2 linked regions of the Homo sapiens genome follow. The protein of the gene in region 2 purifies or fractionates together with the protein of the main gene of each other region. This does not show direct contact. Each region holds a gene or a part of one and is shown on either strand. Other genes may lie near its edges.

The links.
Region 1: the proteins of ITK (region 2) and DYNC1I2 purify together in Homo sapiens (affinity purification with mass spectrometry; 2 studies listed by BioGRID and IntAct, with this or other methods). This does not show direct contact.

Annotation. Positions count from the first base shown.
Region 1 is NC_000002.12:171,746,167-171,750,658, reverse strand, and holds the end of DYNC1I2 (cytoplasmic dynein 1 intermediate chain 2), read right to left. Parts: intron 2,884-4,492; coding exon 2,770-2,883; 3' UTR 501-2,769; downstream 1-500. UniProt on the Homo sapiens protein: Acts as one of several non-catalytic accessory components of the cytoplasmic dynein 1 complex that are thought to be involved in linking dynein to cargos and to adapter proteins that regulate dynein function.
Region 2 is NC_000005.10:157,246,563-157,253,864, reverse strand, and holds part of ITK (tyrosine-protein kinase ITK/TSK), read right to left. Parts: intron 5,016-7,302; coding exon 4,858-5,015; intron 1,259-4,857; coding exon 1,187-1,258; 3' UTR 1-1,186. UniProt on the Homo sapiens protein: Tyrosine kinase that plays an essential role in regulation of the adaptive immune response. Regulates the development, function and differentiation of conventional T-cells and nonconventional NKT-cells.

The sequences.
Region 1 (4,492 bases), on a different chromosome or scaffold from region 2:
AATGTTGAAATACTGGGGTTGTGGAAAAGACATTTAAAAATACACCGCCCAGTGAGTGGCAGGTGACCACTGAAATTTATGGCAGCGCTTTAGGGAAAAACAAACAAACAAAAAAACCTACTGGCTTTCTGACTTAAAAGTAATGCACTACTCAATATAAAGCAAAGATAGTATGATATGCTTCACAGCAGATTTTCACTCATCCATTCAAGTCTTTCTGTATGGTTCAAGGGGTGGATATTAGTCTATCCACACTAGTACAGAACAGACTAAAACATTTTAACAACACTGAAAGACTAGGACCAATCATTCCTAAAACGACTTTCCTATAGTTCCTCCCACTAAATTTTAAGTCATCCATTCCTTTGAGATGCAGTATTTCAGCATTATTGTAACAACATTTTATACAAAGAGATTTTCTAAACTTTATAGGGAGCTGGATCTGTAAACAGGAAGAAAGCTTCTACCAATGCATATTTGGTTTAAATAATACCAAAAAATGATTATTTCAGAGATTTATTGCAAGTTAATTGTCTGTGAAGCTGGATATTCCTTAACATGAAGGTAATAAACTTTAACGTTCCACTCAAAAAGACAAAAACCAAACAACGAAAAATAAGAAATTAACCAGAAAGCTATAGCTTGTTTTCTTACTCAGAAAAAAAGTATAACTGATAAGGTACAATTTCTGTAACTGGATATTTTTCAAAATTATAAGGCTTTTAGTTCTAAAAGTATAAAGAACTGTGATGCACTTCTAGTCAACCTAATCTTGCTAGAAGCTTTATCAACACTGACAGTCTCAATACTTTCTCTTTTGCTATTATATAGTCAACTTTAAAGGTAATTCCTTAAAGTAAATTTGTGTGTTCCTAAAAATATGGACTAAAGTTGAATGGGCAAAGGTATACATCGCATTTTCTGGGGGAGTAGGGGAGAAGTCATTCCCAAAAAGTGAAATATTTAAACAATTTTATTCTTTCTTTCACAACTAAACACACCTTGAGGCTGAGGAACATGTGATTTGCCATATGATTTCCAACCTTTTCTTATCCATTATGTTTTAACACTTGTTTTCCCTACTTTTAGTCATTTTTACAAACTGAAGGTAAAGATACAGTAACTACATGAGTAGTGAGTACATGAATTTTTCTATATAAAGAAAGTGTGACTCTACTAAAATTGAAGTTTTGACTCACAGACACTGCTACAATGAGATAACTTGAGATATTGTCTTTGGTATATAATGGGCAATTATGGGGTATTAATTTATGAAACTGAATATAGAAAAGTAAAGAATTGCCTACTTTTCTATATTCCATTTCACATACTGATACCCCTTAATTGAGTAGAGCTGAAAGAAAATTCAGAAATCATTAAATCAAAACTTAATTCCTACATATAAAGAATGCGGCACAGACTTGGCTAAAATCACACTTCTCATAGATGCTTCAGCAAGAATCAGAGTTTGGGGCCAATAATTCCAGGTCAATTATTCCTTACACTATACACTACTCATTATTTGGAAATTTCTCTCCCAACAAATCTTTGTTACAATTATTAAAAGAAAAATGTTCACATTCTGTTTTCTAATCTCTCTTCCTAGTTCATGTTCTGTTGAATAAAAGACAGTTACACTTCAGAAGTACAAAAGGTTGGGATCAAATAAATAGACAATTTAAAGTAGATAAAATCAAGATCTGATCATAGTCCTTTCCTCTATTCCTGAAATTCACTGATTTCAATACTGATTCTTAGATATTTGTCACCTACCTTTCGGACTTGTAGACAATGCTGTGGCAACAGATCTCAAGATGTAGATTTTAATGCCAAAGTATGGGTCCATTTGAGCACTTTGCCTTTATGGCTACTGAAATCATGAAATCAATTTCTCTCAAAGATTTTACTCTCAGTGAGGTCACATACATAGTTCTTAATCAGTGAAAATTATAGGCAGCTTTCTATTTATCCTTTAAAGGAAATATGTCTTAGATGGAAAGAATATAAAGTAGTAAAGCAAAAGTTAACCTAGGGGAAATTTTTTCACCAACAGATTATCTAGACATCAATTCATAATGCACTGGGAGATCTATAGTATATACCACATGGTATATTTAGGGTACACAGCTCTATAGGATTTGAGATGGCTGCTCACAGCAGGAGCTTAAAGAAAGATATGGAAAAAATATATTTTATAAAAGATGGAAAAATTCAAGTTGTAAGGAGTAAAAATGAAAATTTGAAAAGTTAACGCATATTTGTTTTTATTTATAGGTAACTACCACATGAATTATAAAGACAACAAAGGATGTCAGAATGAACATGGATAGGTGTATGCATACTACGGCTAAGGAGAAACAATGTTCCTACATATTATGGGTAGTGAGAACATTATCTGTATAACAGGGAACTGTGATTATTTAAAAATATGCAGAACTTATTTCATCTGTGCTTTAGAAATAACTGTATACAGTGTTATAAGTTGAAAAGAACTCAAAATAACTAATACCAAATATACACCTATGTATTAGAATTCAAAAAAGCTGCTTTCTGTGAAGTCAATCAGCTATATTAAAAAATGACACAAATCCAAAACAAGATGCATGTTATATATAAAGGGACATTGTAAGTTTCCTTGCTGCATTAAACCCATGGTTTAATCCATGAAATTTCCTTTTAATTATCATTTAGACAGAAGCATGCAAATAGTCTCAGGATCTACTTAAGAACCTTTCCCAAATCCACTAGTTACACTCCCCTTTTCAGGAACTAAGCAGGTATTCGGGTAGCTGCTTCCTCCTCTGCATCAGCTCGGTTTGCATTAATTTCTGCAAGTGTTCGGCCAAACCGTGCCCATTCATCATTGCGGGGAACAGCAATCTGCTGTTAAAAGAAAGACAATGTTTTATATACAATGAAATAAAAGATCATTTTACCCACTATTATTCAGTTTGTTTTCAAATAATTTTTCTGTTAAAAAGTAATAATTGACCTGAATGGCCTTTCCATAATTACGGGGACTATAACAATGATTTACAACATTTCAAAACAAAAGACGGTGTTTGTGAAGTGTGTTGTGACAGCCTCAGAAATGACTTGGCTATTATCACCACCAATGCAAGAGAGAATAACAATGATGCTTTGTAAATATAACTCCTATGCACCATCTCATGGATTTTGCTGGAGAGGAATTCCTTAAAATTTTTTTTTTACTGTATTCTTGCAAAATTCCTAGTAAGAAACAGTGTTTGAAGCATGGTTCATAAGGGGGCTCGTTTCTTGTAAGTATTTTTCTTTGGAACATAAGGTAATCTTTCTTGATACCTTAACTCCTTCATCAAAAGCTGTGCTACTATTTACCACTTTAGTGCTGCACTGGTGGCAAAAGAGCCTTGTGATGCTTTACTTCAGAGGCAGCCCAATAACATATATATATATATATATATATATAATTTTTTTTTTTTTTTGAGACAGTCCCACTCTGTTGCCCAGGCTGGAGTGCAGTGGCACTATCTTGGCTCACTGTAACCTCTGCCTCCCAGGTTCAAGTGATTCTCCTGCCTCAGCCTCCCCAGTAGCTGGGATTACAGGTATGTGCCACCATGCCTGGCTAATTTTTGTATTTTCAGTAGAGATGGGGTTTTGCCATGTTGGCCAGGCTGGTCTCGAACTCCTGACCTCAGGTGATCCACCCGCCTCATCCTCCCAAAGTGCTGGGATTACAGGTGTGAGCCACTGCGCCCGGCCCCAATAACAAATATTTTTGATAACTGCCATTATAATATCATAGGAGTCTGACACTGTCATGTTAGGGCACAAACCACTCACTGTGGCAAATGGCTGTGCCTGTTTATAAATCTACACTATCCAGTAGGGTAGCTACTGGCCACATGTGACTGTGTATATTAAAATTAATTAAAATTAAAAATTCAGTTACGCAGTTGTAGTAGCAACACTTAGAGTGTTCAATAGCCATATGTGGCTAGAAGCTACCATATTAGTGCAGGTACAGAACATTTCCATTTGTGCAGATAGTTTAATTGGCTGCTGTAAATGATTAAATCTACCTCCCACCAGATCCAATTGCTAGAGGCCATGGGATATCCAGAGAGGAGAGAAATCATGAGGCATAGCAAAGGAAAGTGACTAAGGTCACTTTTTTAACCCCTAGCCAGGGTTAAAAAAGAGGAAATCCATCCTGGGCTTTGTGTTCAGCCAATCAGAGCAGCAAAGATGAGAGAGCTGCAGCTCATCCTATTGGATTCCATTACTGTGGCTTTGCATCAAGGCTTAAGAGTCAAGATGCACATTGCATAAAGTCACAGATGGTTCTCAAAAGATACTACTTTTGGTTTCTACTACCTGGCCCAAATTAATGAATACAGAAAAATAAATCTTATTTCAATATCAATAAAACCCCAAAGTCCACCTATAACTCCAAACTTCTCCCCAAAGAATTTCTAATTTCCAGCAATGCATGCTTCAAGAAACA
Region 2 (7,302 bases):
AAGCCAGAGTAGGCACTCTCATGCCTCTTGGAAGCACCCCAGTCAGTGCCTGACTGTTTCCATCCTGATGGTTTGAGCAAAAACAGACTCTTTATTTCTCTCCTAGAATTTTAGGAGACTTGGAGTCTCAACCTTAAAATTGCTCAACCCTAGGGCCTAAACAAGTTTCAATTGCTCGCCAAGGGAACATTGACCAACACAATGCTGCCCTCTGTTGATGAGGATCGGATAGTGCAGAGAGGGGGGGCTGATTCCCAGAGGCTGGAAAAAAGGATGTTTTTCAGAAGTAATCATTTCTTCTCAGGATGCTGGTGGAAGCATTCTGTGCAGAAGAGGAGGCATAGTCACCTGCACAGCTTGGTATAAAAGATGAGCTTGGTATAAAAGAAGAGACCTAAGATCTCTTCTTGCACCACATGGTTCTCCACCGTCAGAGGTTCTCTTGTTCTGGTGCAGACATCAGATACCCAATGCTCCAAGCATGGGACCTGAACTGTTCACCCCAATCCATCCAATGGGTCTCGCCATGCTCCCTTCAAGGAGAGAGGTAGCAGCATACTCTGTAAAACCTCATAAAGCTGCTTCTCAGAATATCCGGCCTCCTGTGTGAGCAGCTGCTCTATCATTCTCTACGGCAGGAAGCTGTGGCTGACAGCATCACAGCAACAGAGCACACTCACTCTAATCTTACTTAACTCACCAGTTTTCTTGGAAAAAGACTCATGCTCTTTGTTCCCCTTGCCTCCATATCCTGGGATACTGTGTTGTTGGGTCAAATAAAAAGTCCCTGGAACCATAAACTTTAGATTCATGTTAAAAATAACAATAAAAATAGCAATCTGGGTCTTACTCATGTCTCTCTCTGTTGCTAAGAAGTGCAAGAATGCTGTCTGAAAGCTGTCAGGTTGAGGTTTGTGCACCACATGTGACAAGAGGCTAGAGGAAGGGCAGAGACATCACTCCTGTTCTGGCTCAGCTCCCAGCTTGGTGGCTGACCCTCCAGCTGTGGCTTGACTGCCAGCTGTGGTCAGGATGCTGCTTCCATGGTGACTCAGGGACTGATGCCACAGGCCAGGCTGCCTCTGGAGGGTCCTGGGCTGGTGGCAGCTTCTAATGCTCTATGGAATGAGGACATATCCTTCCTCCATTCAGGATCTGCAGCCCGTGGCCTGGTACTCAGTCTCTACTAAAGTCCTGATTCTGCAATTTCAGCCAGTTGACGCAGCAGTCTGGAGAAGGCTGGCCGATCTTCTGGTCTCTGGAGAGGGAAAAAAGAACTCTGTAAGTTCCTTGTACTTATGCGTCATAGGTAAATCCAAAACAAACCAGAATTTAATAGCAGCATCCCCTGTGGATTTTTGTATGTGCTTCCATGTTGACTGTATTCCATATACATTGTCCTAGTTGTTAACAGCAGGTATTCTGGAATCCAAGGGACTAGTGTTTAATCTCAGTTTTACCACTAATTAGCTGTGTGACATTCAGCAGGTTATTTAACCTCTTTGAACCTCAGTTTTGTCATTTGTAAAATGGAGATAATAATAGTATCTACCTCATGAAATTGTTTTGAGAATTCAATAAATCACATATAAAAATATATCAAGAAATTAATGCTAAAGAACACCAAAAAATGAAATATCTGGGTATAAATCTCAGAAAATATCTACATGATCTAAATGAGAAAAAATTAAAAATTCTAATAAAAGAAAGCAAAGAAGATCTAAATAAATGGACAGATATTCCATGTTCATGGACAGGAAGACACTATAGTGTTAAAATATTAGTTCTTCCCAACTTGACTTATAGATTCAATATAATCCTAATAAAAATTCAGCAAGTTATTTTTTTTAGATATTGACAAACTGACTGTAACATTTATACGGAGAGGCAAAAGACCCAGAGAGCCAATACAATAATGAAGAAGAACAACAAAGCTAGAAGACTGACCCTACCTGACTTTAGGACTTACTCTAAAGCTACAGTAATGGGAGAGGATGGTGCTAGTGAAAGAATAAACAAACAGATTAATGGATCAGCCCAGATATAGATCCATATAAATATAGTAAACTAACATTTAACAAAGGAACAGAGGAGAAAGGGTATAGTCTTTTCAACAAACAGGGCTGTAATAATTGGACATCCATATGTAAAACAATGACTCTAGTCACAGACCTGACACCTTTCAGGAAAATTAACTCAAAGTGGATCATAGACCTAAATGTAAAATGCAAAATTATAAAACTTCCATAAAATAAAAAGTAACATAGGAGAAAATTTGGGTGACATTGGGCTTGGCAATGAGTTTTTAGATGTAAATCAAAAGCACAATTCATGAATAAATAAGTTGATGTTGAGCTTTGTTAAAATATTTGAAAAGTCTTCTCTGTGAAAGACACTGTCAAGAGAATGAGAAGACATGCCACAGACTAGGAGAAAATTTTGCAAAACACATATCTGATAAAGGACTTGTATCCAAAATATACAAAGAACTCTTAAAACTCAACAATAAGTAAACAAACAACCTGATTGAGAAATGGGCAAAAGATCTGAATAGATATTACCAAGAAGATATACAGGTGGCAAATAAGCATATGAAAATGTTCTTAACATCATATGTCATTAGGAAAATGCAAGTTAAAACAACAATGTAATATGACTACACATCTATTAGAACCACTGAAATCCAAAACAATGAATGCTAATAAGGAACTCTCATTGCTGGTGGGAATGTAAAATAATACAGCTACTTTGGAAGACATTCTGGCAGTTTCTTAAAAAGTTAAACATAGTCTTACCATATGATTCAGCAAGCATACTCTTAGGCATTTACCCAATTGAGTTGAAAATTTATATACAAAAATCTGCACATAAACATTTATAGCAGCTGTATTCATAATTGTTTAAAACTGAAAGCAAGCAAGATTTCCTTTGGCAGGTAAATAGATAAACAAACTGTGGCATATCCATACAATGGAATATTATTTAGCAATAAAAAGAAATGAGCTATCAAGCCAAAAAGACATGGAGGGACCTTAAAGGCATATTACTAAGTGAAGGAAACCAGTCTGCCTGAGCACTCACACTTATAATCCCAGCACTACGGGAGGCCTGAGGTGGATTGATTGCCTGAACTCACCTGGGCAGCATGGCAAAACCCTGTTTCTACCAAAAATACAAAAAATTAGCTGGGCCTAGTGGCACATGTCTGTGGTCCCAGCTACTTGGGAGGCTGAGGTAGGAGGATCGCTTGAGACTGGGAGGCAGAGGTTGCAGTGAGCTGAGATTGCACCACTGCACTCCAGCCTGGGTAACAGAGTAAGACCCCATCTCAAAAAAAAAAACAAAACCCCACAAACCCAAACAAACAAACACAAAAACTGAAAACAACCAAGATTTCCTTTGGTAGGTAAATAAATAAACTATGATATATCCATACAATGGAATATTATTTGGCAACAAAAAGAAATGAGCTATTAAGCCACGAAAAGACATGGAGGGACCTTAAAGCATATTACTAAATGAAAGAAACCAGTCCGAAAAGCCTACATGCTGTATGATGCCAATATATGGCATTCTGAGAAAGGCAAAACTATGAAGACAGTGAAAAGATCAGTAGTTGCCAGTGGTTTGGGGATGAGGAGAGGGATAAATGGGTGAAGCACAGGAGATTTTTAGTGCAGTAAAACTATTCTGTCTGATACTATAATGATGGATACATGAATTTGTGAAAACCTACAGAACTCTACAGCACAAAGACTGAACCTTAATGTAAACTATGAACTTTAGTTAATGTATGAATAGAGGTTCACTAATTGTAACAAATGTATCACACTCATGCCAAATGTTAGTGAACAGGGAAACTGTTCAGGTGAGGTGGGCATATGAGAACTCTGTACTCTTTGTTAAAAAATAAAGACTATTAATTTAAAAAAATCAATAAATGATGGTTAAAAGAGGGAAAAAGTGCCAACTGAATGTCAGCCATCATTATTATTATTGTAGCTAATCCTTATGAAGTGGATAAGATTTGTTTTATGCCCTCCTTTATGTCTCTATTGTTTCTTTGTTTCTGATTATAAAAGCTCTATGAACTCACAGACCAAGCATTATTTAATTCTCTTAACAGTAAGAAAAAGGAAGTTCAGAGAATTGTCAAAGATTAATGGCAAATAAATGGTAAAGCTGAGACAAAATCCTAGTGTTCCAAATTTTTTGTATTCCACCTTGTTGTCGTACAATGATCAGAATTTTTATTAATTCTCTGTTTCAGCAACTTTCCACTTTGGCTGAAATGTATGATTTTCTAACTCAGCAAAGACAGCAAAGACTAAGACTCATAGTGATGGGGCTCAAGCCATGGCCTGCAATCCAAGGTTGGGGTAAATGAGCCACCTGGGCGGGTACAGAGGAATTGGCTCCCCATTTTAAATGCAGAATGAATAAAATGAACTCAAATTAAGCCATTTTAATATTTTCATAGTGCAAGTGAACTTTGTTCCCCAAGTTATAGAACTAACTTCCTGTGCTTTTAATGGTTTTATGATGTTACAGACTTTTTTTCTCTTCTCAGAAAATCGAGAAGGAAGCTGGCATAGGCCACACCCCATCCTCCTCTCTGAAGCTATGCTTATAGCTTGTGACATTATGTAGCAAACCAAATAATATTTAAGGTCGCCTTCAGCTCCTTTAGGGATGGGGGATCTATCCCGTTAACAGATCCTCAAAGTCATGTTGTTGCTAATCTATATTAGTTATCCCTCCTGCCTCATCCTTCTGAGAGGGTTCCTTTCTCTAGGGAAGGAGGGAGGTCCTCAAATTGTATACGACAATGCATGGGGAAGCACTTCCTCCACTGACCTCTTTCCAGCAGTGATTCATAATCTGGTAGACGTGTGTGGAGGCCAGCCGGGGCTTGTACAACCGAAATCCGGTACTGATGTCTTCCACCACCTCTGAGTTGCTTCGGTTTTCATACGGGATTTTGCCTTCACTGAAAACTTCCCACATCAGCACACCTACAAGAAATGGTGAGCACAGCACAGTGAATGACAAAGCCCACAGACAGCAAACAAACCAACCTGCCTCTAGAAATTACAGACTCCTTGCATTAGGATTCATGTGCTACCTCCAGAAGTGCATCAAGTCTACCTGAGGCTTATTAGGCCTGTCCTATTTTTAAAGAACTGAAATTTCCCAACCTTTGTAGTGGAGAAGGATTTTCAAGATGGACCCTTTGTTGTACCAAACTCAAATGCTACAACTAAGAGTTGTAGACTCAAATGCCAAGATGCAGGATGTAAATGAATGGAGTGCAGGAGGTGTGACACTATTGGGATTGGGGAGGATTGTGGAAAATGAGATAAACAGTTCTGTCTTAAGGAGACAGCTATGATTTGACTCCAACCAAAGTATGGCACATGAAAATGAGGGATCAGAATTGGCACATTTTCTGATTTTTTTAAAAAAGACGTCAAAAATTAAGAGTTGAACTTCTTGAATTTAAAAAATGCCATGTAGACCAAGCAAAACACATCTTTTGCTTGTCTATTTTTGACCTCTGATTTAATCCCTTTCTTTTCCTCTTCTGCCCTTGGTAGAAATGTGACACCTAGCTTTGTCTTTATCATGTGCTGATATATTCACAGGTTGTCAGAGCAAGAAGGCTGCTTGCAAATCAGCTAATTCAGAGCTTTTCAAAGGTTGTTCCAGAGAATCTTAGAGTAGACATTCCCAAAGCATGATCCCCAAAACACCTGAATAAAAATCATCTCAGAGTCTTGTTCAAATGGCAGATTCCTGGGCCCTAGCCCAAACCCAGTGGATCAGAATCTCTAGATGTTACTCAGAGGTGCCTCAGGAGTTGGAAATTCAGAACCTGACCCTAAATAAGAATGCTTATCACCCCAAGACACCATAATTTTTAGTGAAAATTTTTTTGAAAATGTGCCGATGCTGAAACATGGTTTCAGAATGATTGCTTTAATACACAGATGAGAAATGTATAGATAAAAAAATTGAGCAAAGTACAAAGAGGTTGACTTGTTCTGAATAGCACACTGCTAATTAGGGCAAAGAAACTTAAAACGTAGGACAAAGTCCAATGGGCTGATGCAGGCATGGAGTTTTCAGCTCATCCAGGTTTCTGTTGCTTAGGCTGGTACCCCCAGTTTTTTCACACTTTTTTCCATTGATCTCTCAATTCTGCATCCATCCATCAACCTCATTTCTGGACTCTCTTCAGATAATATATCCTAGACAGGGACTAATTTCAGCCCAACCCTGTAATGGTAATATGCCCCAGGAAATTCCCAGGCTGACACCCTTTGGCTGAATAAACCCCATTCAGAGTCAGAAGGTGAATGTGCTAAAGTGGCCATTGCTCCAAATGTCTCATTGTGGGGCCCTTGCTTGCTTGGTGCAGTGTGATCAGTTTCATCACCCATAGTGAGATGACTGCACATCAGCCCCAACCTTCCTAGTTATACACACTGGGGAGAGGGGAGTCATCCAAAAATGCTGTTAGTACAATTTCTTTCAAGTCCATTCTGTAACTTAAACCTGGTTAACAAAGTAGCTGCAAGGGTTGGTTAATAGGGTACTGTTTTAAGAAATAGGTAGGACTCATAATGAACAAACCACTTGGCTCCTAGAGATGGATAGACTAAAATGCTGCAGAAGATTTTTAACACTCATTCTTCTCCTAAAAGATTTACCTAGCCAAACTCCCCCCTGGTTTCTACTACTAGTAAGCCCTTGTCAAACCCTTCCTTCATACCGAATGGCAAAAATCAATCTTCAAGTAGTTTCTGTCCACAGTATAATTCTTGTAATCCAAATCAAAGAGGTTGTCTGGTATATTTTTTTGCACACTTTAGTATGCACAAACTATGACTTCAGGTGACATGGCAAATCCAGCAAGAACATTTGGCACATCCTGCAATACCAACATCATTCATCCCTTCATGGCCATTTGCACTTTTTAGAAATTCTAATTCCTTATGATGGCCTACCAGCTTCATTGCCTGTTGTTCTCCCAATAAGTCAGTACCCCTTGTTCTTTGGATGCACCAAGTTTTTGCACTTGCTGGTCCCTCTGTCAGGGACACTGTTCCCTGGCTCTTCAAATGGTGACAGCTCCCTCCTATCATTCAAGTCTCTGCTGAAGAATTACCTTCTGAGAAAGGCCTTCCCACACCACACTATTCAAAGCAGACCCTCTCTCTATCCTAGTCACTCTGCCCCATTACTGTTTTATTTTATTCATAGCACCTACTTATGATTGCCTGGCTTTATCTTCTATCC